Regions from separate parts of the Homo sapiens genome. Here all the other regions are linked to region 2. The links come from fine-mapping of genetic effects on gene expression. A gene starts in region 2. Each other region holds a variant in brackets. All regions are shown on one strand. Distances are between the middles of the regions.

Region 1 (8,180 bases), 110 kb after region 2:
TTTCTAGAATACCCTTTCAAATATATTCTATCTATCTTCAGACTTAATGATTATACTCCAAGACCCCCTGTGTGATTCTTTTACAATCACACCCCCAGCAGCATTCTCAAAGGGCTTGTCTCCCATATTGTGTGTCTGGGGGAGCTCCATTCAATGTGTTGGCAGTTTCACTGAGCACCCACTATGTACCAGGTACTGTGCTGGGGACTAAAAGATGAAGAAAACATTATCCTTCCCTGAAGGTTCTCAGGATCTAGTGAGGACAGAGACAGGGAACCAACTAAGCCTCATATGGCAGATCAAATGATAGATGTCAGGTGTCATAATGGAGTTAGAGAGAGGTAAAGAAAGCCTGGGGAAGCCCAGACGAAACAGGAATGGACTTGGCATCAAAATAGGACTACAGAGGAGGAACTTGAAGAACAAGTAGGGTTTTCAGGTGTAAAGGAGGTGGGGAAAAGCATTGTAAGCTAAGGGAATAACACGATGAAGTGCAGAGACACAGAAGAGCTTAGCATGTTTGCCAAAGTGGGGAAGTGGTCTGATGGGGCTTTGTGGTTTGGGGCAGGGTGGTGCTGGAATGGAGAGGCCAAAACAAGCCAGATGGTAAAGAACCTCAAATGTTAGGCCAAGGGTTTATGACTCAGGCACAGGCAAGGGGGAGAGAAGAGAGGGGTGATGTGAGCAGGTTCATGTTTCCAGAAGCTCACTCTGCCTTGTTTAGGGGACCCATGTCCCTGTCCATTCCCTCTTCCTAGACCTCCCCTCCACCAAGGCGGTCTTTGTTTTCTGGGTGCTCTGGGAAGAAGTGTGGGATGGATTTGCTCTAATACTGAACAGTTCTCTGCAACTTCAGAAATACCTATCATCAAGCTTGAGGGGCAAAACTGCAGAAGTAGTTTAGGGGAAGAAGCCTGACCCCTAAATAGGGGATGTTGTATCATAATTTTATCCCACATGACTGTCATATTTCAAGGCCTGGGGCAAATGGCACCTCTTCCAAGAAACTACAATGTCACTATTATCTTTTCTGGAGAAACTTTCTTTAACTTCCTTATGCTCATCTAGCACGTCCCCTACTGACTCTGTTGGAACACCTGCTGGGCCTGCCCTTGTATGAATTTAGTTGGATTATATGGATCCATTAAGCAACTGCAGAGGTCCACCCATGCCAGGACCTGCACCAACTCTGAGGATGTAGAAATGAAAACATTGAGTCCTTGTCTTCAAGGAAGGAAGCTCACCCCAGAGATCACCTGGAGATCTTTATCTGCACAGTAAGACATTTGTTCCTGTGCAGCTCTGCCTCTCACCTTCCTGTAACTTGTCCCATCTAGCTCTGAAAGAGAATCAATTACTAACCATTGTCTGAGCATTGGGCCTAGTCATTTCCCCACTCCCCTCTCTGTTATGAAGAGGGCATTAAGCCTCAACCATCTGGTCCCTCTTCGAGTTCATGTTTTGTAAACACTCTTGCACATCTGTGCACATAATACCTTTGTTATGATTTTCTCTTGTTAACATGCTTTTTGTTGTAGGGGTGTTGGCTGTGACCCTTTATGATGGGGAGAAAGGGGATCACCCCTTTCTGTCCCTACCTTTTCAAGGTTTATGTACATTCTAGCATGTGTCAGAATTCCATGCCTTTTTATGGCTGAATGATATTCCATTATGTGAATATGCCACGTTTCGTGTATCCATTCATCTGTTGAAGGACATTTGGGTTGTTTTGCTATGGTCAATAATGCTGCTATGAACGTGAGTGTACAAGTACCTGTGTGGGTCCCTAATTTTCATTCTTTTGGGTAGATACTTGGGAGTGGAATTGCTGGGTCACATAGCAGTTACTGTGTTGAACTGTGTGAGGAGATTCCTCCCTCTCAGCAGCTCTTATGCTCACCTTCCTTTCTGTGTCTACTGCTGCCTTCTGCCTTCAGAAGCCCCCTCCTTCTTTCTGCACCTGGGCTAAGACAGCAGCTTCCTATTCGGTGTCTGTTTCCCACATCCACCTCTAGAGCTCATCCCAAAGAGTGATGGTGCTGTGGACCAAATTGTCTCCCAAATGCACGCATTGAAGATCCTACCCAGGACTGACTGTATTTGGAGATAGGGCCTTTATGGAGGTAACTAATGTTAATGGCGGTTATAAGTGTGACCTCAGTTACCTAATCCAATAGGACTGGTTTGGAAATAGATTTCTGTTGCCTAAGCTCCCAGCCTGTGGTGTTGTATTATGGCAGCCTGAGCAGATGAATGCAGATGGTGAGCAGCTCTTCCCCTGAGCCACACTGCCGAGGCTGCCCTGCTCAGAAACCTTTGGTGTTGCTGCCCTGTAAGACGGAATCCTAACGCTTCATCATTCGAGGCCGGCCCGTTCTCAGCCTTGCCTGCACTTCCGGGACTGTCTCTCCTTGCTCTTCCATCCCCAGGCTCTTCTTCAGCTGAGCCAGTGTATTGGCTCTTTCTGGAATAGGTTTTGTGCATTTGGCCTCTGTCCAAATGTCCCACAACTCCCCCTAGTGCCCTACTCACCCTAGTACCCCCCACTTCCTCTAGTACCCCCTACTCCCCCTAGTGCCCTACTCCCTCTAGTACTCCTCACTCCCCCAGTAACCCCTCACTTCCTCTAGTACCCCTGGCTCCCCCACTATCCCCCACTCCCCCTAGTACCCCCTACTCCCTCTAGTACCCCCACTCGTCCTAGTAACCCCCACTCCTTCTAGTGCCCCCTACTCCCCCAGTACCTCCCACTCCCCCAGTGCCCCCCACTCCTCCTAGTACCCCCATTCCCTCTAGTACCCCTGACTCCCCCTAGTACCTCCCACTCCCCCTAGTGCCCCCCACTTCCTCTGGTACTCCCCACTCCTCCTAGTGCCCCCCACTTCCACTCCCCCAGTCCCCACCAGGCACTTTGGAATGCCTTCTCCTGCTTTCTGCTTATTCCCCTCCTGCAGAAGCTCCCCTTGGGGATGGGGTGCAGGAGTCCAGTGATGTCCACTCGAGAAGCTCCTTGGGACATTTGCATTAGTACTATCTCTGTGCACATACAGTGGCGCACACAGTTGTTCAGCCCAGAAACTTGTGAACACACAGCTACTACTGACCAAGCACCTATTCCATGAGGACTTTAAGAGGATACTTTGAGATATAAATAACAGAAAAAGTCAAAATGGCTTGCAATAGTCATAGCTGACACTTACATGACACTTACCATGTGCCAGACGCGATTTGAATACTTTCTACACATTAACCCCTTAAATCCTCACAATGATCTCATAAACCAGATACGGTTATTATCACCATCCCCATTTCACAGATGAGGAAACTGAGAAGAGAGAGAAAATAAACAAGCCAAAAGTCCTCAGTAGTAGTGGTGGTGGATTGGGCAGTCAAGCTCTAGAGCCTTTGCCCCTGACCCCCACTGTCCCGTGTCTCTGACCTTGGGACAGCATTCTCTCACTTAATGAGATGTCTCAAGTTGGGGACATCCCAAGGGAAATTAATTCAACCGCTCAAGGCTGTCACCAAGGACTTGGCTTCTTTTCATCTCGACACTCTGCCATCGTTAGCCTCTTGGCTTTTATGTTGGGTATTATCCCTTTATGTCACAATATGGCTGCAGCAGTTCTAAGTATCATGTTCTCACCCAACCACACCCAAAGGTCAGAAAGAGAGAAAGCCCCTTCTTTATAGCTCTTTTTTTAAGAGTAAGGGAAACTTTCCCCAAATTCATCCAGACACTTCCTCTCGTGTCTTGTTAGTCAGAATGAAGTTACACGCCCGTTCATAAACTAATCACTGGGTCACCGTGACTGGCTTAGACCAATCAAGACACTGTGCTAGGCTCCCAGGGAGTCCTGCTTCTCCTGAAGCATGTGGCTGCCAGAAACCCTGAATAAAACAGGCCTCTGGCTTGCTGGTGAGGGAGAGGAACTGGAAGGGTTGCGGGCCTGTCACACAGCATCGCTATTTCTGGCTCCCACATCAGCCTTGTGAGATCAGGACTTTTATCGTTTTATGAATAAGGAAACCAAGACTCAGAGACAATGAGGTGCTTGGCCAAGGTCAGCGGCTGGTGAGTGACAGAGTCTGCATGCTCAGCCCATCCCTAGGAGTCTGGCAAGGCTGGAAATTGGTCTTTCTTTTCCCATCCTAGATGGATTGCGTTGGAAAGATTCAGGCTCCTGTCAGCTGGCTCTTGCTGTCCCTTCCTGACAGCTGCGACTCTGAGAACAGTTTAATTTCAGAAACCCTCACACGGTGGCTC[C/T]TCTCCCTGCCAGGCATCAGGAGGCCCCAGAGGAGCAGCAGAGGCAAGACTCGCTGTCCAGACTCCCTTCTGAGGAGACTGCGGTCAGGGAGCCCAGGCTGACCCTCGTGTTCTCATGCCTCGGTCCTGTTGATAAGAGGGAAGTCTGTGCTGGGTTCCTATCCACAAAGCCCTTGCGGGGAATGGGTCCCACACGCCGCTTCTGCAGACCCAGCTCATCCTGTTTCCGGTTTCTATTTTGTTTTTTCTTTTTTTTTTTTTTGATACGGAGTCTCGCTCTGTCGTGATCCGCCCGCCTCGGCCTCCCAAAGTGCTGGGATTACAGGCGTGCGCTACCGCGCCCGGCCCTGTTTCTGGTTTCCAATTCTCTTAGGATGTCAGTGCCTTTGATCCTCTGAGCCCCCGGAAGGGCTCAGCCCTCTCACATCTGCCTTCCTCCTAGAGGTGTGACGCCTGCCCTTCCGCCAGGGCGAGGCAGGGGAGTGACTTGGCGCCCGAGTCCCGTTTCCCGTCCCCTCTCCGTTGCCTGTGCTCAGAGCCAGGGACTCTGCTATTTGTAGGCCCCGCGGGCTCTGTCTGGGGTCTTTCCCCAGGGGAGGGTGTGCGTCCGGGAAGGAGAGGCAGCCTGGAGTTCCTTCTGGATACCGGCCAGGCCTGCGCTATTTGCCTGGAGAGGCCATCGGCATCACTGAGAAGGTCCCTGGAACTCGCTGCTCAGACACATATGTGGCAGCCAGTCAGGAGCTACGTTCTTCTTTGCTGGAAACAAGCAAGGATAGACTGTGATTTTCCTCTCCCTCTGTTGTGTATTTTTCACTCCTGTCTCTCCATCAACCCACCCACCCATCCATCCATTCATCCACTCATCCATCCACCCACCCACCCACCCATCCATCCATCCATCCATCCATCTACCCATCCACCCACCCATCCATCCACCCACCCATCCATCCATCCTACCATCCATCCACTCATCCATCCACCCACCCACCCACCCATCCATCCACCCACCCATCCATCCATCCATCTACCCACCCACCCACCCATCCATTCACCCACCCATCCACCCATCCATCCACCCATCCATCCACCCATCCACCCACCCATCCACCCATCTATTCACCCATCCACCCACCCACCCACCCACCCACCCACCCATCCACCCATCTATCCATCCACCCACCTGTCACATAGTGTGGCAAATACAACAACGACTCACATGTGGTTCCTGCCCCTACACCCTCAACACTCATACCCTAGTGGGGACTCCTCCAACCAACGAATGCAGAAGGTTTTAGCTCCCTGATGGGCATTTGTATTTGAAGTTGGGGGGTGGGGGGCTGCACAAATGTGCACAACTTAATAGAGGTCCTTCTGGCATTGTGCCAAAGTGAAGCTGAGGAGGAGTTAAATTTTTATGTTTTTTTGGTTGTTCAGCCTCTGTAGAGAGTCTCAAAAATTCTCGATGCCAATTATATTTCAAGTTGTCATGACAAGCTATAGGGAAAAGTTTTCAATTAGCAATAATCATGTCTCAGGCAAACCTCATTGGCTATGGTACCGCCACTGCAGAAATCTGAGGAGTTATTTTTAAGCAAGGGCTCTGCCTTCCCAGCGTGTCTTAAATTTCTCCAGGGTGAGTCAGATCACCCCTGTTCTTGGGGACCTCTTACACCAGCTACTGGTCGCCAGGTCTAGGGGAGGTTAGTGACCTCAGCCCTGGAAGGGGAGCCTCAAAGTCACTGGTGAGCCTCAAAAGAGGCTGGCAGGGCTGCCTGCCCAGACCCATTTGCTACAGTTATAATGGGGAGTGTCCTTGGGTAATGAACTGCTATGTAGAGCTCCTGATTAAGCACTAATTAATTATTAATGCACTGTGTCATAATTTTGCCTGGCCCTTTCTATGCCAAAGAATTGTATCCCACAATTCCATTTGTGATCCTGCATTTTCTGATTTGTGGCCATGGTGGCCCCTTTTCAAGCTCACCTGTCTCTGCAGTGGCCAGATGGATCACTGAGGGTACATGCACCACGAGGTCATTGTCCACTGGTAGTAGGTGGCATGGATGACGACTCATGGGTGTAACGTGTGAACAACAACAGATACACCGGCTGGAGTCAGCCACACTTGGAATTCTGGCTGTAATGCTACTGTGGTTTGGATATTTGTCTCCCGAAACCTCATGTTGAAATTTGATCCCCGATACTGGAGGTGGGGGCCTATGGGAGGTGTTTGGGTCATGGGGACAAATCCCTCATGAAGGTCTTGGTACTGTCCTTGTCCTTGTTATAATGAGTAGGTTCTTGGTCTATTAGTTCCCTCAAAGGCTGGTTGTTTAAAGAGCCTGGAACCTCCTCCTCCTCTCTCTGGCTTTCCCTCTCCCCATGTGATTCTTACACATACCGGCTTCCCTTTGCCTTCTGCCATGAGTGGAAGCAGCCTGAAGCCCTCACCAGAGGCAGATGCTGGCACCATGCTTGTTGTACAGTCTGCAGAACCATGAGCCAAAGAAACCTCTTTTCTTTATAAGTTACCCAGGCTCAGGTATATCCTTTATGGCAATGCAAATGGACTAAGGCAAATGTACTCACCTTGGTGTTACCTCAATCATGTTACTTAACCCTTTGAGCCCTTCTCATCCATACAGGAAGGAGAAGAGTAGCACCTGCCTCACGTGTTTAACCAGAAAGAGGACCTCAGGCTCCAGTGATGGATCGGGACATGTCTTGTCCTGAGGTTTCCTTTGCTGTACTTCACTTGGGGCCATCTCAGGAACCAGTGTAAGGTCACTGGAGATGCCACTTGGAGGAGGCACTCAGCTGTGCCTCTGGCCTGCACCTGTGCTTGGTTTATGGGTGGGGTCAGTTGTTGGGACTATTTTAGTTACAGGTTCCAGAAATCCATCTTCAAACTGCAAAGGGGAATTCTTGTAAGGATTTGGGGGTGTCTCCCAGAATCTGAGGGTAAGAACTGAGCTGGCTTTCAGGAGCAATGGGAACTCATGGTTCGGCTCCACCTGAGTCTCATCCTGGCTTCTCTTTGTGAATCTGCATTTTTCTTTTCCTGGAGATGAGATTTTCCTCCTTCTCTGTCCATGTGGCATGACATGTAGTCACCACTGCTCCCAAAATTTAGCTTCTCGTAATCCCAACGCTTTGGGAGGCTGAGGCAGGTGGATCACCTGACTTCAGGAGTTCAAGAGCAGCCTGGCCAACATGGTGAAACGCTGTCTCTACTAAAAATACAAAAAATTAGCCGGGCATGGTGGCAGGCGCCTGTAGTCCCAGCTACTCGGGAGGCTGAGGCAGGGGAATCACTTGAACCCAGGAAGTGGAGGTTGCAGTGAGCCGAGATCTCACCACTGCACTCCAGCCTGGGTGACAAGAGCGAAACTCTGTCTCAAAAAAAAAAAAAAAAAAATGCAGCTTCTCCATTCAAGTTATTAGTTAAGACTGAACTGACATGTCTTGGTCCTAAGTTCCAGATGTCCAGCTGGGGCCAGGGGTCTGCAGCCACACGTGGGGTCTGAGAGAGCTGGCAGCTTTGCTGGCAACATGTGAACAGTGAGAAAGCCAGGACAGCAGTCCTCAATGAGGCCAAGTGGTGCTGGGACGAGCGGGGTCCCAGGAAGAGGGGCTGTGGAAACTGCTCTACCGCCCCTGCCTGGGGCTGCTCACTGAGAGGACACACTTTCTTGAGTGTCACCATTCCTCCATGATGGCTTCCAAGAGGCTGAGTGAGCATGCGCTTAGGGCACCAGCAAGGCCAGCAACAACAGTGAAAACATTTTTTTTCCTGACAAAAATTGTTTGGGTTTTTTTGAGACGGAGTTCTGTCACCCAGACTGGAGTTCATTTGCTAGATCCCGGCTCACTGCATCCTCCGCCTCCTGGGTTCAAGGGATTGTCCTGT
Region 2 (8,176 bases):
CATCTTACCTGTAATATTTAAGCCCAGGGTTTTGTTTTTGTTTTCAGAGTCTCGCTCTGTGGCCCAGGCTGGAGTGCAGTGGCACATCTCGGCTCACTGCAACCTTCGCCTCCCAGATTCAGGTGATTCTCCTGCCTCGGCCTCCCGAGTAGCTGGAACTACAGGCATGTGCCACCACGCCTGGCTAATTTTTTTGTATTTTTAGTAGAGACGGGGTTTCACCATGTTGGCCAGGCTAGTCTCCAACTCCTGACCTCAGGTGATCCACCAGCCTTGGCCTCCCAATGTGCTGGGATTACAGGCATGAGCCACCACATCCAGCCAAAGCCCAGTTTTTTTGTGTCTAAATTTTGCTCTTGCCAACACTCAGTAAGATCACCAATGACTTCTGCCTCACTTCTTTCTGAAGCCATTTCCCTAAAGTCACCAGTTTTCAACCTGTCATGTATTCTTCAATCTGGACTTTAAAAACTACTCATTTAAGAGGTGGAAGGATGTCAGAGCAGAGCAGAATGGCTAGGACCTGCATTACTCTACAGCCCCAAACCATGAGAACTCGAAGAGACTTAGAAAGTTAAGCCCAAAGTCTTCGGTTTTACAATGACACTGAGAGACAGCTCTAACTGGATGAAATCTTAACTCCCCTCATCTTAGAGAGTTTGGTTCACTTATAGTTCTTTACTCTTGGATTTTAACATTTTTTTGTGCTTCCACGGTTCAGTAACCTCTTTCAATACCGTGATTATCAAAAGGGTTGAGAGTTGTTCACACAGTTATTTTGAATACATGGTTTAAGTAATTCTGCCCCAACCTACTCTATGAAAGGGAGGAGGCTGAGAATATCTGCTCTTTTCTACCAAAAATTTAGCTATCCTTCATGTTACTTTAACTAGTCTTCTATAATTACCAAGTTAGTCTCACCTCCTCCACACCAAATCTTTCTTCCTGTTCACCAAAGGAAAAAAAGAAAACCCTATGTTAGCACGCATGTTCAAAAACTTTAGGTGTTACTCTACTTTCCTAGACTCCTTATTAAATTACTAACTCATCAATTATCACTTGTCTTATAACTTCCTTATCTGTCAGTTCAGATCACAGACTGGTTAGTCAGCCCTCAAACCACGAATTCTAGATGCTGCTACATGTACAGTGGTGCTGACATCTGTAATCCCAGGACTCTGGGAGGCCAAGTCATGAGGACTGCTTGAGGCCAGAAGTTCAAGACCAGCCTGGGTGTAACAAGATCCCATCTCTACAATAAATAAATAAAACTTTAAAAAAACCAGTTTCCCATGAACCAAATGAAGAAACCCCCCTTACTCCAATCTTCTATAAATGATGATGGCTGCCTTCCTTTCCAGGCTTGTCTCCTGCAGCAACTCTGCACATGAACTCTGCTCCAGCCACACCGACACACTGTTCCCCGAACAAGCCCTACCCCGGATATTCCTTTAATACTGACACCTCCGCCAGCCTCTTCCCTCAACGTTCACCCCAAAAAAACGGTATCTTTGTGAAGCCTTTTCAAAGGTTTCTATTTCCTTCAGACTACATAGCATTGTGTTCATTAACCATCTGATGGGAATATTGTGGTATTTATGTTTGTGTATCTCTCACATGCTCTCTAAATTATAAATCATCAGAGGGCAAAATCCACGGTTCTGTTTTGTTCCTCCCCATATTGCTCAGAGCACAGTGCCTGGCACACAGAAAGCTCTCAATACAGTTGCCAACTTGAAGAAGTGCTTTCCCAAGATATTTTTTATAGGTTGGCCACCAAGCCCCAGTTAGCCTCTTAAGCCATTTTATGAATATTTCATTTATGCCTTGGTGTCTCGGATTCATCAAACTAAACTATTCTATGTCTTCTCAGTATATAAAAGAGACTGTCCTAAATTCAGGGGTTGTCCCCATTGAAATGGTCTGTATGAAAGTTCTATTCTAATAACACCTGGTCTCTCTCTCAAGCTACGTATCAACTAAGCAAAACTCTTCCCCGACTTACGCCATCATAAAAAGCAGAATTTATAAGAGCCACAAAATAAAACGAATATTCCTTTGGCTCAGAGTCACCTTGCTCGAGAACAAGAAAAATCACGCGGTGATTCTGAATTGCTTCAAGGTAACTAATTGAAAAGCAATAAACTGAACAGAAATGAAATATGCTGTAAGAGTATCCAAAATACATACATAGAAAACCTTAACATATGGAATTCTTATGAGTCTTCCCTTGGTAACAGATAATGCTGTTAACAGCCATTACCATATGTTACTCAAGTTGAAGTCTACCACTACTTTCAAGTTGGCAAAATTTTTTAATACGAGCAATTCAGTCCAAAAAGCTTTTACAAGTGCTTCTTCAATGCCAAGCAGGGACTGGAAGCTAAGAGCACACGGAAGAATACAACGAAGTTTTGACTTCATAAAGTAAATAATCTTAAGTTTTCTCCACTTTAGTACACACTGTCTGCATTACTTTCTTTGCCTCTTTACCAGTTATTTCCATCAGCCATGATTTTGTCCGGATCGCCTGTCATCGTATTAGAAAAATAGATAGGTTAAAAAAGTTTCGTGGATTTTTTTTTTTTAAACAAGGGGTGGGGAACATATTCCCTGCCCCACCATTCTGATGAGATGAAGAAAGGCGGCTTGGGGGGTGGGGGTGGGGGAGGAGGCCAGGGAGAAATTATTTCTTCCATTCCCTTTTGAAAAATCCCCAGTCTAGTATGCTTGTCTATCAAAGCCCACCTAAAATATGATGTGCACAAACACATCAAAAATAAGTAGGCCTCTTGTAAAAGTGACACTTAAAAGGCAAACCATATGAGATTATTTCCCATTTTATTCATAGAAATGACTCTTGGCAGCACTGAAACATTTAAAAACACTCCTGGATATAATGCTGGTATTTCAGTTTTAAAAACTTATCCTACGGATCAAAAGATCCATGGAATGACAAAGCTAAAAATGTTCTCTCTCACTAATAAGGGTGAATCACAGCAGCCACCTACTCCACCCAACAATCGTCCTTGCTAAGACTGGACAGTTCAAAACCTGGAAAGCTTTCCTTGTCTGCTCCACACTGGAAACGAATTCACTTCAACACTAGTGTTTAAGCACAGGTGTGCAACAGCAAGGAAATGTTATTAAATGTTGAAATTTACCAGGACATTGTGTTCTTCAGATACAGCTGTGTCCTTTTCACATTTCCCGAACTCCCCTCCTCTCCTGTTTATGGGGGGTGGGGGGGAGCACAACAGATACTCTTACTTGAAAAATAAAGTATCTGTTCAGATTTTCTAAGTAAATTTCCATTACTGGGTTTGGGAAAAAATCCCTACTACATTGTCTGTAACAAAAAGGTGCCTGCGCCTTCTTTCAACTGCCTGAAGCTTGTGAACCGACTGAATACATTTAAAGGGCTCACAGATCTCAGGACGCAGTCTCCCCGCACAAGAAACTTAAAAACGCCTTTCAGTCTCGCAGAGACCTACTTGGATGTTTCCAAGTTCCATCGTTTGGTAGCTACCCAGCATCTGGGGCGAAAAAAAAGGACTTATCCTTGGAAAAGCGGCTTCTTGAGTCTCAACAACCGGAGGGACACAGTAGGGAAGTCAGGGCTCACCTAAAACCCTCCACCCCAGCAGACAGTCCGGCAAGCCCCGGCTCACGTTTGTTTCCGTGCCCGCGAAACTCTCAATGAAAAGCATCTCACAAAAGGCCTCCCCTGCTCCCCGCGCCGAGGACTCACCAGCACCGTGGTGCAGATGGATCTCAGCTCGGACTCCACTTTCTCCCGATAGTCCTTAATCAGCTGCAACTTCTTGTCGGAGGTGTCGGTCTTCTGCTCGATGCTAGAGATGACCCTCCAGGCGGACCTGCGGCCCCCGACCACGTTCTTGTAGGCCACGGAGAGCAGGTTGCGCTCCTCGTTGGACAGCTCGGCGCCCTGCTCGGTCACTGCCTTCATGCAGGTGGCCATGTCGTCGTAGCGCTCGGCCTGCTCGGCCAGCTTGGCCTTCTGGATCAGCTCAGTCTTCTCCATGGCGGGCGCGGGGCCGGGGCCGGGGCGGAGGGCGAGGAGAGCGAGGGCGAGCGCCGACCCGCAGCGGGAGGAGCCTCGAGAGCTGCGGAGGGGCGGGGCGGCGAGGCGAGAACAAAAAGCAGAGAGGGAGCGCCGTCAGACAATGCGGCCCGCCGCCCGCTTTTGTCTCCCGCACACGCGGCCGCTTGAATTTCCCTCTCCCCCGCCCCCTCCCCCGCTGGGCACCCGGGGAGGCCGCGGCCCGCGGCTGGAGGAGGCGGGGGCGGCGCGGAGGCCCCGCGCGCAGGGAGCCCGAGCCGCGGCCGCTCCCGCCACCCCCGCCCGGCCGGCCCAAGATGGAAGCGACCGTTGGCCCCGCACCTTCCCGCCCGGAGCCGTCCCTGAGGGGAGCGGCATCGACAACCGGCTGCTCTCAAGGGCGGCACCTCCGCCCGGCCCTCAATCCGAGCGCGGCCGGAGGAAGCCCGCGGGCCGACCCAGGCGCTCACCTTCACGTCTCCGCGGCCGCGACGCGAGTCCCACCACTTTGATCTGCTTTTGGCTTTAGCTGAGGACCCTCCCGTGTCAGCCTACCCCGGGGCCGAGGGGCGGTCCACCGCCCAATGATGCGCCGAGCTTCTCCCGAGAGTCCCGCCCCCAGCGCGCCGCTGGCCAATGAGGACCGAGCGCGCGGAAGGGGGCGAGGGGGGCGGAGCGGGAGGGAACGCGGAGGCTAGGAGGGTGGGTCGGTACGGGGAAGTTCGGTTGGCCGGCAGGCTGCGGCTTCGGCCACGGGGTTTCCTCCAATTAGATCCAGGGTAAAAGGACGTCACTGTTGCCATGGCGATGCCGTTACCAACTCCCCTCAGCCTCCCCGCCACCCCGGCACTTCTGGGTGCGGCACGAGACCCAGAGGCGCGCACGACCTCCTAGGCGGCGGCTGCGTCTCCCGCTGCGGATGGTGCATTGCATCTCACGGGCTCTGGCCGAGGCTGGACTTCGGAGGGTGACATATTCAGCTGTTTTAGAGCACGGGGGCCTTTCTTTCCTCCACCTTTCTATCCGTGACAAAGGTTTGGATCCCAAGACACTAAACCCAGACCTTAATGACGTTGCCATTAGGGCTCCGAATTAAGCAAACCGCATCCCCATTAAAGAAGAATTGATTCTGGAGACGGTGTCTTCAGTATGGCATTTACATGATAAATTCAAGTTTTCAGATGGGCATCCTAAAACAAAAAATTCCCTTGTGAAAAGGTAGGTCCCAGAAGATCCAGGGGAGTTTCTGTGACAATGCCAAGTATTGTGGTTTTCTTTAAAATGAGAAATGACATTAAGCACAATTTGCAGGAAAACACCTATTACTACCCCTTCCCACCCCCGCAAAAAAAAACCCTGCCCATAACATCTCTCCCCGCAAAAAAAAAGCAATTTTTATGTATCTTTTAGGCTTTCCAGGTTATGCACCTAAATACATCATTTTTCACATCGTTGTCACATGTGCACACGCTTTTGTTTCTGGTATTATTTGTGAGAGGTCACTTGAAAAGCTGAAATCCTCTCCCTGGATGTTGATTTCTGATTTTCTCCTCCTGGGGAACACCCTGCTGAAGCGAGAAAGATTCCCCCAGGCCCCTCCCATTCAGGGTCATCCCTGGCAGCTCCCTTTCCTCTTAAACCACTCCTGTCTCTCCTTGCACTTCCCCAGTTCCCTAACTCCATCCAGGTAGGGTGGCTGCCCTGCCCGTCTGGCGCGTGGTCCCTGTGCCATCTTAAGATGAGAATTGCCCTCTGGGTTCACGCTGCTATGATCCCGATTCCAGCAGGTCTAAGGAGAATGGATCATAAAGAATTTCCCATTCTGAGTGGAGACTGGAGCAAATCCGGAGAATCTCTAGAATGGGAGATTTGAGAGTGCAGACAGATGGGAGGAGAAGGTGCCGACTTTCCAGAAATTCAGACTCCCTCTTGACTGCCCCTCCCTGTCCTGACTTGTGAAGGTTGCTTTGTGCTTTGACAGACAGGAGCGGCCTGGATTGGAAAGGGCCTGTGTCTTAATGCAGAAATGCCTTACTATGTTCCAGCCTTCTAATGGAGGGCCCTGCTGTTATTTCTGGAATCCCTGGGGCCCCGCTACAGACACATGAGTGTTTATGGCCCTGTGGGCTGGGGTGGAGCTGGACACCGAGAAATCCCAATGGAAAGAATTTGCATGTGGAAGGTCAGATAAAATGCCTTCTGTATGACCAGTGAATTTCAAGCTCACCAAAATTAGAGGCAACCCGGGCAAGGGGAGAAGCCAGTGGAGGTGGATGGGGGATAGAGACCCAGGAGAGGAAATTGTCAGGGGATGGAACCTCTGTGGTAGAGAGGGACTACCAGAAGGAGCAAGCACACTAAATTCTTTGTCAGAAAGTCTAGGCTGTGCTGTGGTCTCCCCCAGTGACCTTGGGCAAGTTTTTGCTGCTTTCTGTACCTTAGTCTCTGAAATTTCTGCTTTCATTCAATCAAATATTTATTGAACACCAACTCATCTAGTTGCAATCATCTGGAATCATGGGTAAAAACTGCTTCCAACCAATAACACAGTATAAAATTGCATTTTAGGAAGATTCAGAGGACCCTCTACATAGCTAAAGGCTTCTGTGCCTGAAAGAACTCGGGTTGGAGAGAAACAAGGCTCTGGGAACTTGAAGTCCCTGGACACAGAAAGAGCTAACCTGTGTTGAGTGATTGCATATGTCAAGCACTATTTTAAGTCTTTTGCAAGAATTAACTTATCCAATCTGCTTAATGCAACTACAAAGTAGGTGTTATTATACTCACTATCTCTATTTCACAGACAAGGAAATTAAGGCACAGGGTGGTCAAGCATGACGTACAGGGCCACACAGCTAGAGAGCGGCAGAACCTTGGATATGGACCCCATGCAGTTTGGGTGCCAAAGCCCATCTTTTTAACCACTGCTGAGGCTGCCTCACCAAGTCTCCCCAGATCTCTGCTAGATGCTGTAGAGATCCTAGGATGGATCAGACCAGCCTCTGTCTTCTAGGAGCTTCACCCTAATAAATGTGAAACCTGTTAAGCATCACATCCAACATACTGGGAAGAAGTGCAAGGAACAGACAGCTAGCAAAGGGAGTACTGAGAAATTATTACTTTATTTATGAAGTTCTTATTATTTTTTCTAAGTTACCTGGTATGAAGAAGCTCCTGGAACAAAAAGGAGCACATTAACATGGAGCCAGAAGACCCTAAATTCAGCCCTGCTATTTATATGTGATTTGACCTTGGATACCTTGATCTTCTCTGAAACTCAATTCTCTCTACCTGTAATCTATAAAAATAATCCCAGCTGGGCACAGTGGCTCATGTCTGTAATCCCAACACTTTGGGAGGTCGGGGTGGGTGGATTGCTTGAGCCCAAGAGTTCCAGACCAGTGTAGGCAACATGTCAAAAACCTGTCTCTACAAAAAACATAAAAATTAGCTGGGTGTGATGGCGTATGCGTGTAGTCCCAGCTACCCGGGAGGCTGAACATGGGAGGATCGCCTGAGGCCAGAAGGTCGAGGCTGGCATGAGCCATGATTGCACCACTGCACTCCAGCCTAGGCAACAGAGTGAGACCCTGTCTCAAAAATCATCATCATCATCGCTACATCAAAGAGTTGTTTGGAGATTAGATGAGCTGTCACATAGGGAAATGCTGAGCATATAGCAAGTGTTCCATAAGTAGTGTTTTCTTCTTTCCTTCTTTCCCTCTGCTTGGAGGTGGGGTACGGCGCTGGCAGGATGCTATCCTGCTGCAAGGAGCCTTAGAACTTTATTAAATGTTTAGTGAAAGCTTATCTCTTGAATCATTGTTGTAATTAGTGCAGTTAATGGTCTACAGAATGGCTACATTCCATGTACATTTCAGAATGAATGAGTCCTTCAGGTTAAGCTCACTCTCATAAATCGTTTCAGTGATTTATTTGCTCAGACCAGTGGATCACCAGAAACTTCTTCCTTTCCTGCCATATGGCAGCTAGTTTAGTGACAAGCAAACATCTGAGTGGGACTTTTCACCCAAACTCTTCATATAATTATTATTGGTGCTTCTGTGCAGTGGGCAGAGAAAGTTGCCCCCCAACTCTGGCCTGTGGGTGCTA
Region 3 (8,180 bases), 69 kb before region 2:
AATTTTTGTATTTTTAGTAGAGATGGCATTTCACCACGTTGGCCAGGCTGGTCTCAAACTCCTGACCTTAGGTGATCCACCCGCCTCGGCCTCCCAAAGTGCCAGGATTATAAGCGTGAGCCACCGCGCCTGGCCTGAATAACCAGAAGTCCTAGATTTCCAGGGACATTCCAAATTTCAAGTAATCTTTTCAATTCACAAATCAGGACCCAAATTATTCCAATTTGCAGTTCATCTTTCATTTATCAATTGTGCATACTTTTAAGATAAAAGAGCACCACGTGGGGGAGATAAAGAGCCAAAGGAATATGGTAAGAGGGGCACTGGATAGATTAATTAGTTTATCTTTTTTTTTTTTTTTTTTTTTTTTTGAGACGGAGTCTTGCTCTGTTGCCAGGCTGGAGTGCAGTGGCATGATCTTGGCTCACTGCAGCTTCTGCCTCCCAGGTTCAAGGGATTCTCCTGCCTCAGCCTCCCAAGTAGGTGGGACTACAGTTGTGCGCCACCATGCCCAGCTAATTTTTGTATTTTCAGTAGAGACAGGGTTTCACCATGTTGGCCAGACTGGTCTGGATCTCCTGACCTCGTGATCTGCCCGCCTTGGCCTCCAAAGTGCTGGGATTACAGGCATGAGCCACCGCGCCCGGCTCTTTTATCTTTTGAGACGGTCTGGCTCTGCAGCCAAGGATGGAGTACCGTGACACAATCACAGCTCACTGCAGTCTCGACCTCCTGGGCTCAAGCAATCCTCCAGCCTCACCCTCCTCAGTAGCTGGGACCACAGGCATGCACCACCACACCTGGCTAATCTTTACATTTTTTTTATAGAAGTGGAGTCTCGCTATGTTCCTCAGGCTGATCTCAAACTCCTGGCCTCCCAGAGTGCTGGGATTACAGGTATGAGCCACTGCACTCAGCACCAAAATAATTTTTTAAAACTATATACCCCCTGGCCAGACGTGGTGGCTCACACCTGTAATCCCAGCACTTTGGGAGGCCGAGGCAGGCGGATCACGAGGTCAGGAGATCAAGACCATCCTGGCTAACACGGTGAAACCCCGTCTCTACTAAAAATACAAAAAATTAGCCAGCGCAGTGGCACGTGCCTGTAGTCCAAGCTACTTGGGAGGCTGAGGCAGGAGAATCACTTGAACCCTGGAGGTGGGGGTTGCAATGAGCCGAGATAGCGCCACTGCACTCCAGCCTGGGCGACAGAGGGAGACTCCATCTCAAAAAAAAAAACAACTATATACCCCCTAGGTGTATCTTTAAAGTTTTTCATCATTAGCGTAGTAGTAGCAAATTATGAAACTTTCAGCATAAATACTGACATTTAAAATTAAAGCTGTTAGGTCATTATTTTAAAGTTTTCCAATAGAGTATAAATACCTCAAAGATTTGACAGCCACAGTGGTAGCCCAGCCTCCAAGATGGCCCCCAATGATGCCTGCTTCCTCTTCTACACTGGGCCATAGTTGGTCTGTGACCACTAGCATGCAGCCGAAGTGATGTCACTTCTGAGGTTAGGACACAAGAAACTCTGTCCTCCATCTCAGGTGCTCTCTTGCTTGCTTGTTTCCTCTTGAATCACACACTCTGGGGGAAGCCAGCTTTCATGTCATGAGAACACTCAGGAAAACTATGGAGAGGTCCAATAGAACAGGTCAGCAGCCAACAAACACCAAGGAGCTGCCAAAGACTATGTGAGTGAGCTTGGAAGGAATTCAGCCCCAGGCAAGCTTTAAGATCACTGCAGCCCCTGACCTACCATCTGACTATAACTAAGCTACTCCCAGATTCCTCAGCCTCAGAAGCTGGGAGATAAGTGTTCGTGGTTCTAAAGCTCCTAAATTAGGGGTAATTTGTTACACAGCCACTATCATCTGTTCAAAAAAATACGTAAACAAGTTGATGGGATCCTGGGTTCTTAACACCTGAAGTGATGCTTTTAATTTAGGATTTAATAAAGATAATTAAAAATATTTCCTGAGGTTCCCCAATCCCATGCTGTGGAATTAATTATTCATAATTTAGATACCGCAAGTGAATTTAAGAGTAAACATTTGCAGTTATTAAACACATGAGCCACATATGGTTCTGCAGTTAACTACCAAACCCACACAAGTACCAGTAAAACCTTGTCTAAATGACCAGAGAACTAACTGGTTCTGGCTGGGTGTTTTGTTTCCTTCTATCTATTTCTCTAGCTCTATTTCTCTTATTAGCCAATTTTGTCTTACACCAACCCCACCAGTTTTTATAGATGGATAGAGCCATCCTCACTGTTTCTAAAATGGTAATTATTCCTGCATTTGTATGCTTTTTTGCTGATGAACAAATCTGTGGAAAGCAGTCGCTTTAAGTATGAGTCAACCCACAAATAAGACAACAGATGCCACTTAATGAAAAATAGGACTTTATACAAAGTCATGTGCCAAGAACTCTAATTTCTAAGGTTTTGGTTAAGAAATTTTAACCCATTTTAGAAAAAATCAACCTTTTTTTTTTTTTTTTTTTTGAGACGGAGTCTTGCTCTGTCGCCAGGCTGGAGTGCAGTGGCGCGATCTCAGCTCACTGCAACCTCCGCCTCCCGGGTTCAAGTGATTCTCCTGCCTCAGCCTCCCGAGTAGCTGGGACTACAGGCATGCGCCACCACGCCCAGCTAATTTTTGTATTTTTAGTAGAGACGGGGTTTCACCATATTGTCCAGGATGGTTTCAATCTCTTGACCTCATGATCCGCCCACCTCGGCCTCCCAAAGTGCTGGGATTACAGGCATAAGCCACCGTGCCCGGGCAAAATCAACCTTTTAGAAAAATGACAAATATGCATGGGACAAAGCAGAGACATCTGCAGATCCTCACTGATGAACAGATGATTTTGGGGGGAATTTTTTTTAATTGTTATAAAGTCTCCTTTCTTTCTTTTTTTTTTTTAGAGACAGGGTTTCACCATGTTGCCCAGGTTGGTCTCGAATTCCTGGGCTCAAGCGATCCACCCACCTCGGCCTCCTAAGGTGCTAGGATTACAGGTGTGAGCCACCACATCCCACTGATATGAACCACCATTGTGTGCAGAAGTATCATACATCCTACATATTGTATGCCACATAAAATATGGAGCTGTGTCTGTTCTTTTCCTTCTTAAATCCCTGCCTCTCTCCCTTGAGATCTCGGGGTAATTGAACCACATGAATAACTGAACTTAGAGAGCAGACTAGATAAAGAGAACAAATGGAAACTTGTGCTGGTTTGAAATTACCTCAGGTCTGAAGTGGCCAGAAGTCATTACTCTTGGGTTGACAGGCCCCAGAGAGGAGACTCTCACCAATTACCCTCCAGTTCCACAGCAGCCAGAGACCTTAATTGAAAAGCTGTTCTACTTAGGGCTCTTCAGAAAAACCGAACTTGATTGTTCAATGTTTAAATTCTGAAAATTTTACTAATATTTTAAGAATTATACCAAAGAGA[T/C]ACACATTATACCTTTGGCCTCAAAGAAATTATACTCTAAAAGATAGATATATATAAACACACAAACACCCAAATGCATCAGGAAAAATAAGGATCATGGATTTTTTTCACGTTAACTTTTTGGGTTTGTGTTTTTTTTGAGATGGGGTCTCGGTCTGCCACCCAGGGTGGAATGCAGTAGCACAATCTCGGCTGACTACAACCCCTGTCTTCTGGGTTCAAGCGATTGCTTGTGCCTCAGCCTCCCGAGTAGCTGGGACTACAGGCGTGCACCACCATGCCCAACTAATTTTTATATTTGTATAACAGTGGAGATGGGGTTCCACCATGTTGCCCAGGCTGGTCTTGAATTCCTGGCCTCAGATGATCTGCCCACCTCAGCCTCCCAAAGTGCAGGGATTATAGGTGTGAGCTATCACGCCTGGCCCACATTAACTTTTTAAAATAAATTTTCATTTTAGAAAAATTTCAGATTTACCGAAAAGTTGCAAAGATAGTATGGAGTTCCTGTTTCACCCAGCTTCCTAAATGTTGACCATGATGATCATGGTATGTTTGTTAAACTAAAAAAATAATACTGGTACAATACTAGTAACTAAACTGCAGACATTTGGATTTTTTTTTTTTTTTTGAGACGGAGTCTTGCTCTGTCACCCAGGCTGTAGTGCAGTGGTGCGATCTTGGCTCACTGCAACCTCCTTCTCCCGGGTTCAAGTGATTCTCCTGCCTCAGCCTCCCAAATAGCTGGGACTGCAGGCTTGTGCCACCATGGCCGGCTAATTTTTGTATTTTCAGTAGAGATGGGGTTTCACCATATTGGCTAGACTGGTCTCAAACTCCTGACTTCAGATGATCTGCCTGCCTCTGCCTCCCAAGTGTTGGGATTACAGGTGTGAGCCACCACACTGGCCGGATTTTTTTATTTTTTAATGTGCCTTACGGTCTTTAAGAAATTTTGGGGCCAGGCACAGTGGCTTACTCCTATAATCCCAGCACATTGGCAGGCTAAGGAGGGATTGCTTGAGCCCAGGAGTTCAAGATCAGCCTGGGCAACAAATAAAAAAAATTAGCCAGGCATGGTGGCACATGCCTGTGGTCCCAGCTACTCAAGAGGCTGAGGCTGAGGCAGGAAGATCACTTGAGCCCAGGAAGTCAAGGCTGCAGTGAGCCATGTTTGTGCCACTGCACTCCAGCCTGGGCAACAGAGTGAAACCCTGTCTCAAAATAGATAATTAAATTAAATTTAAAATTATGATAAAATACACATAACACAAAATTTACCATCAACATTCAATACATTTACAGTGCTGTGCAATCATCACCACCATCTGATTCCAGAACATTTTAATCACCCCAAAAGGAAACCCCATACCCATTAAACCACCTTTCCCCCTCCTCCCAGTCCCTGGAAGCCACTAATTGGACTGCAATTTTGTCACTAATGTCCTTTTTCTGTTCTAGGATCTAACCCAGGATACTACATTGCATTTAGTCACATTACTGTTATACTCTTTAGGTCAAATAAAGCTATTTTAAATATTTCATTCTCGGCTGGGCACGGTGGCTCACGCCTGTAATCCTAGCACTTTGGGAGGCTGAGGCAGGTGGATCACCTGAGGTCAGGAGTTCAAGACCATCCTGGGCAACATGGTGAAACCCCGTCTCTACTAAAAATACAAAAATCAGCCAGGCGTGGCAGCATGTGCCTGTAATCCAAGCTACTTGGGAGGCTGAGGCAGGAGAATCACTTGAACCTGGAAGGCAGAGGTCGCAGTGAGCTGAGACACTGCTACTACACTTAAAAAAAAAAAAACAAAAACTCTGCAGAAGCAATAGTTAATATACTTAGTGGTGTTAAAGGAAACTGTCCAGCTCAATCCCTCACTCTCTCTCCTTTGAACTAGTCCCTATCATTCCCATAATACCTGAAGTGACTTTCTTACCTCTGCTTCCTCTCCACCAGTACCTCTACCTGTCTTCCATAACACCAGCTAAATGTCTCCTATCCATGGGCTTTTTCTTGGTTCTTTTATAGCCCGTCCTTCATTTTATCTTGCATTGTTGCTTCTTGATGGTATTTTGGTATTTTCTACCAAAGCACAAGTTCGTAAAGGTGAGGACCCTACTACCTTCCATATCAAATAAGTGTTCTGCCTAAGGCAGTTAACAGTTATTTATGAAACAAATATCATTATCTGACATACAGCCAGATACCTCACAATTTCCCTCATCTAAATAAATTAGACAATTTAATGCTTATAGCGGCAGAATTGTGTCTCCCCTGCCCAAGAAAATAAGTTCAAGTCCTAACCCCTGGTATTATGAATGTGATCTTATTTGGAAACAGGGTCTTTGCAGATGTAATCAAGTTAAGATGAGGTCATACTGGATTAGGCTGGGCCCTAAATCCAATGACTGATGTCCCTGTAAGAAGAGAAGTGACACAGAGACACACAGAGAGAGCACCGTGAGATGATGGATGCAGAGATTAGAGTTATACACCTACAAACTGAACACCAAAGAGCGCCACGACACCAGAAGCCAGGAAGAGGCAAGGAAAAGACTCTTCCCCTGGGCCTTCAGAGGGAGCATGGCCCTGCAGACACCCTGATTTTGGACTTCTGGCCTCTAGAACGGAGAGAATAAATTTCTCTTGGTTTTTATTTTATTTATTTTTATTTTTTATTTTTTGGTTTGTTTGTTTTGTTTTTTTGAGACAGGTTCTCTCGCTCTGTCACCCAGGCTGGAGTGCAGTGGCGCCATCTCGGCTCACTGCAGCCTCGATTTCCTGGGCTCCAGCAATACCCCCACCTCAGCCTCCTGAGTAGCAGGGACTACAGGCACATGCCAGCCACCACGCCTGGGTAGTTTTTTTAGTTTTGGTAGAGACAAGGTTTCCCATGTTGCCCAGGCTAGTCTCAAGCTCCTGAGCTTAAGCAATCTACCCCACTGCGGCCTCCCAAAGTGCTAGGATTACAGGTGGAGCCACCGCACCTGGCCATTTATCTTATTTTAAGCTATCCAGTTTGTGACAACTTATCACAGCAGCGCTAAGAAAATATTACAATGCTTATGGAACACAGCCTAAGGTTACCTCCCCTTCTGCCCTTCTGCCTTTTCTCCTGAAATTCCTCTTGCCTGGAATATCCTTGCTCTATGTATCCAGCTATGAAAAACCTAAGCATCCTTCACTGGCATCTGAACGTTCTACTCACTGGCATCTGAACATTCTGATTTGTAGATTGCAGGTCTGCACCATTTTTTAGTAGTCTTAGTCTTTTAAAGATCCCATTTATTTTGTCACAGTTCTGGAGGCCAGAGTCCAAAATCAAGCTGTCAATTATGCAAATATTTGGTCCTTCAAAGCCATTCTTACATAGGGTGATGGAGTCAGGTAACCAGCAGAGAGCAGGGAGACTGTAAAATTACATCTTTTTCTATTCCTGGCTACTTCTGAGTTCTGATAGTAAATCTCTTGTGATTTAATCATTATTCTTTTTTGTTTTTGAGACAGGGTCTAGCTCTGTCACCCAGGCTGGAGTGCAGTGGTGTGAACATGGCTCACTGCAGCCTCGACCTCCCGAGCTCAGTGATCCTCCCACCTCAGCCTCCTGAGTAGCTGTAACCACAGGCACGTGCTACCAGGCCCAGCTAATTTTTTTTTTTTTGAGATGGAGTCTCGCCCTGTTGCCCAGGCTGGAGTGCAGTGGCGTGATCTCAGCTCACTGCAGCCTCTGCCTCCCAGGTTCACCCCATTCTCCTGCCTCAGCCTCCTGAGTAGCTGGGATTACAGGCGCACCACCACATCCAGCTAATTTTTGTGTGTGTATATATATATATATTTTTTTTTAGTAGAGATGGGGTTTCACCATGTTGGCCAAGTTGGTCTCAAACTCCCGACCTCAGGTGATCCACCCACCTCAGCCTCCCAAAGTGCTGGGATTACAGGCGTGAGCCACTGCACCCAGCCAATTTTTTAATTTTTTTATAGAGATAGGGTCTTGCCTTGTTGCCCAGGTTGTTCTCAAACTCCTGGGCTCAAGCAATCCTCCCGCCTTGGCCTCCTAAAGTGCTGGGATCACAGGCATGAGCCACTGTGCCTGGCCTGATTTAATTCTTCTTCTTCACCTGATCCAGTTTTCTCCATGAAGACTTGAGACCAAGTCACAGTAGGTTTGGACCCAAATGTATGCTGCTCCTCTCTCCCCATGTTCTTTGCTTCTGTTCTTAGCCTGGGGTAAAGTCCTCCTTGTCCTGGGCCAGACATACTGTCAAGAGAAAGCTTGGTATTGGACTGACTCCATTTAAAGAACCTTATTTTATGAATCTGTCCCAGGAAAATATAGTAACTCGTTAACAGTTTTGAATGATTTGTTCTTTGCTTTTTGGCAAATTTCAGTTTATCCTTGCTAGAGGGAAAACAATAAAATCCACAAGTAATTCCCAATTTTCAACCTAGCCCAGCAATTTAACCTCCTCACTCACTTTGCCAAGGCTACTAATAAGTAGCTGTGTGCCTGGCCTGCTTTCCTTCTCTCCTCTCCCTGGTCCTGCCCATTGGCAGGGAGCCTCTTGTGAGTCATAAGATGACCAAGAGATCACACGGCGAGAGACTGAAAGAAAAGCAGCAAAGCCCTGGGTAATCAAGGCCCTAAACGGAAAGTGTCAGGATCTTGGGGTAAGTGGCTTTTATATCTTTGAAACTGCTCA

What was found. PIP is the estimated chance that this variant, and not a neighbour inherited with it, causes the effect.
Region 1: its variant is fine-mapped to the expression of YWHAQ in whole blood (TOPMed, PIP 0.93).
Region 3: its variant is fine-mapped to the expression of YWHAQ in whole blood (TOPMed, PIP above 0.99).

The regions. Positions count from the first base shown.
Region 1 is chr2:9,734,939-9,743,118 of GRCh38, forward strand. It overlaps the pseudogene RNU4-73P. Among named protein-coding and RNA genes, the nearest start is that of TAF1B, 100 kb to the right of the region's middle. RefSeq lists an enhancer at 3,548-3,647. The variant C/T (reference allele first, on the strand shown) is at 4,268.
Region 2 is chr2:9,626,408-9,634,583 of GRCh38, forward strand. YWHAQ (tyrosine 3-monooxygenase/tryptophan 5-monooxygenase activation protein theta) reads right to left here and starts at 4,590. Exons shown (of 6, transcript NM_006826.4): 1 at 4,534-4,590; 2 at 3,752-4,127. The coding sequence starts at 4,045. RefSeq lists enhancers at 3,176-4,078, 3,822-3,921 and silencers at 4,042-4,391, 4,592-4,691, 4,742-4,911.
Region 3 is chr2:9,557,563-9,565,742 of GRCh38, forward strand. It overlaps LOC101929643 (a long non-coding RNA gene), which reads left to right and starts at 7,520. Exons shown (of 3, transcript XR_922777.3): 1 at 7,520-8,148. The variant T/C (reference allele first, on the strand shown) is at 3,471.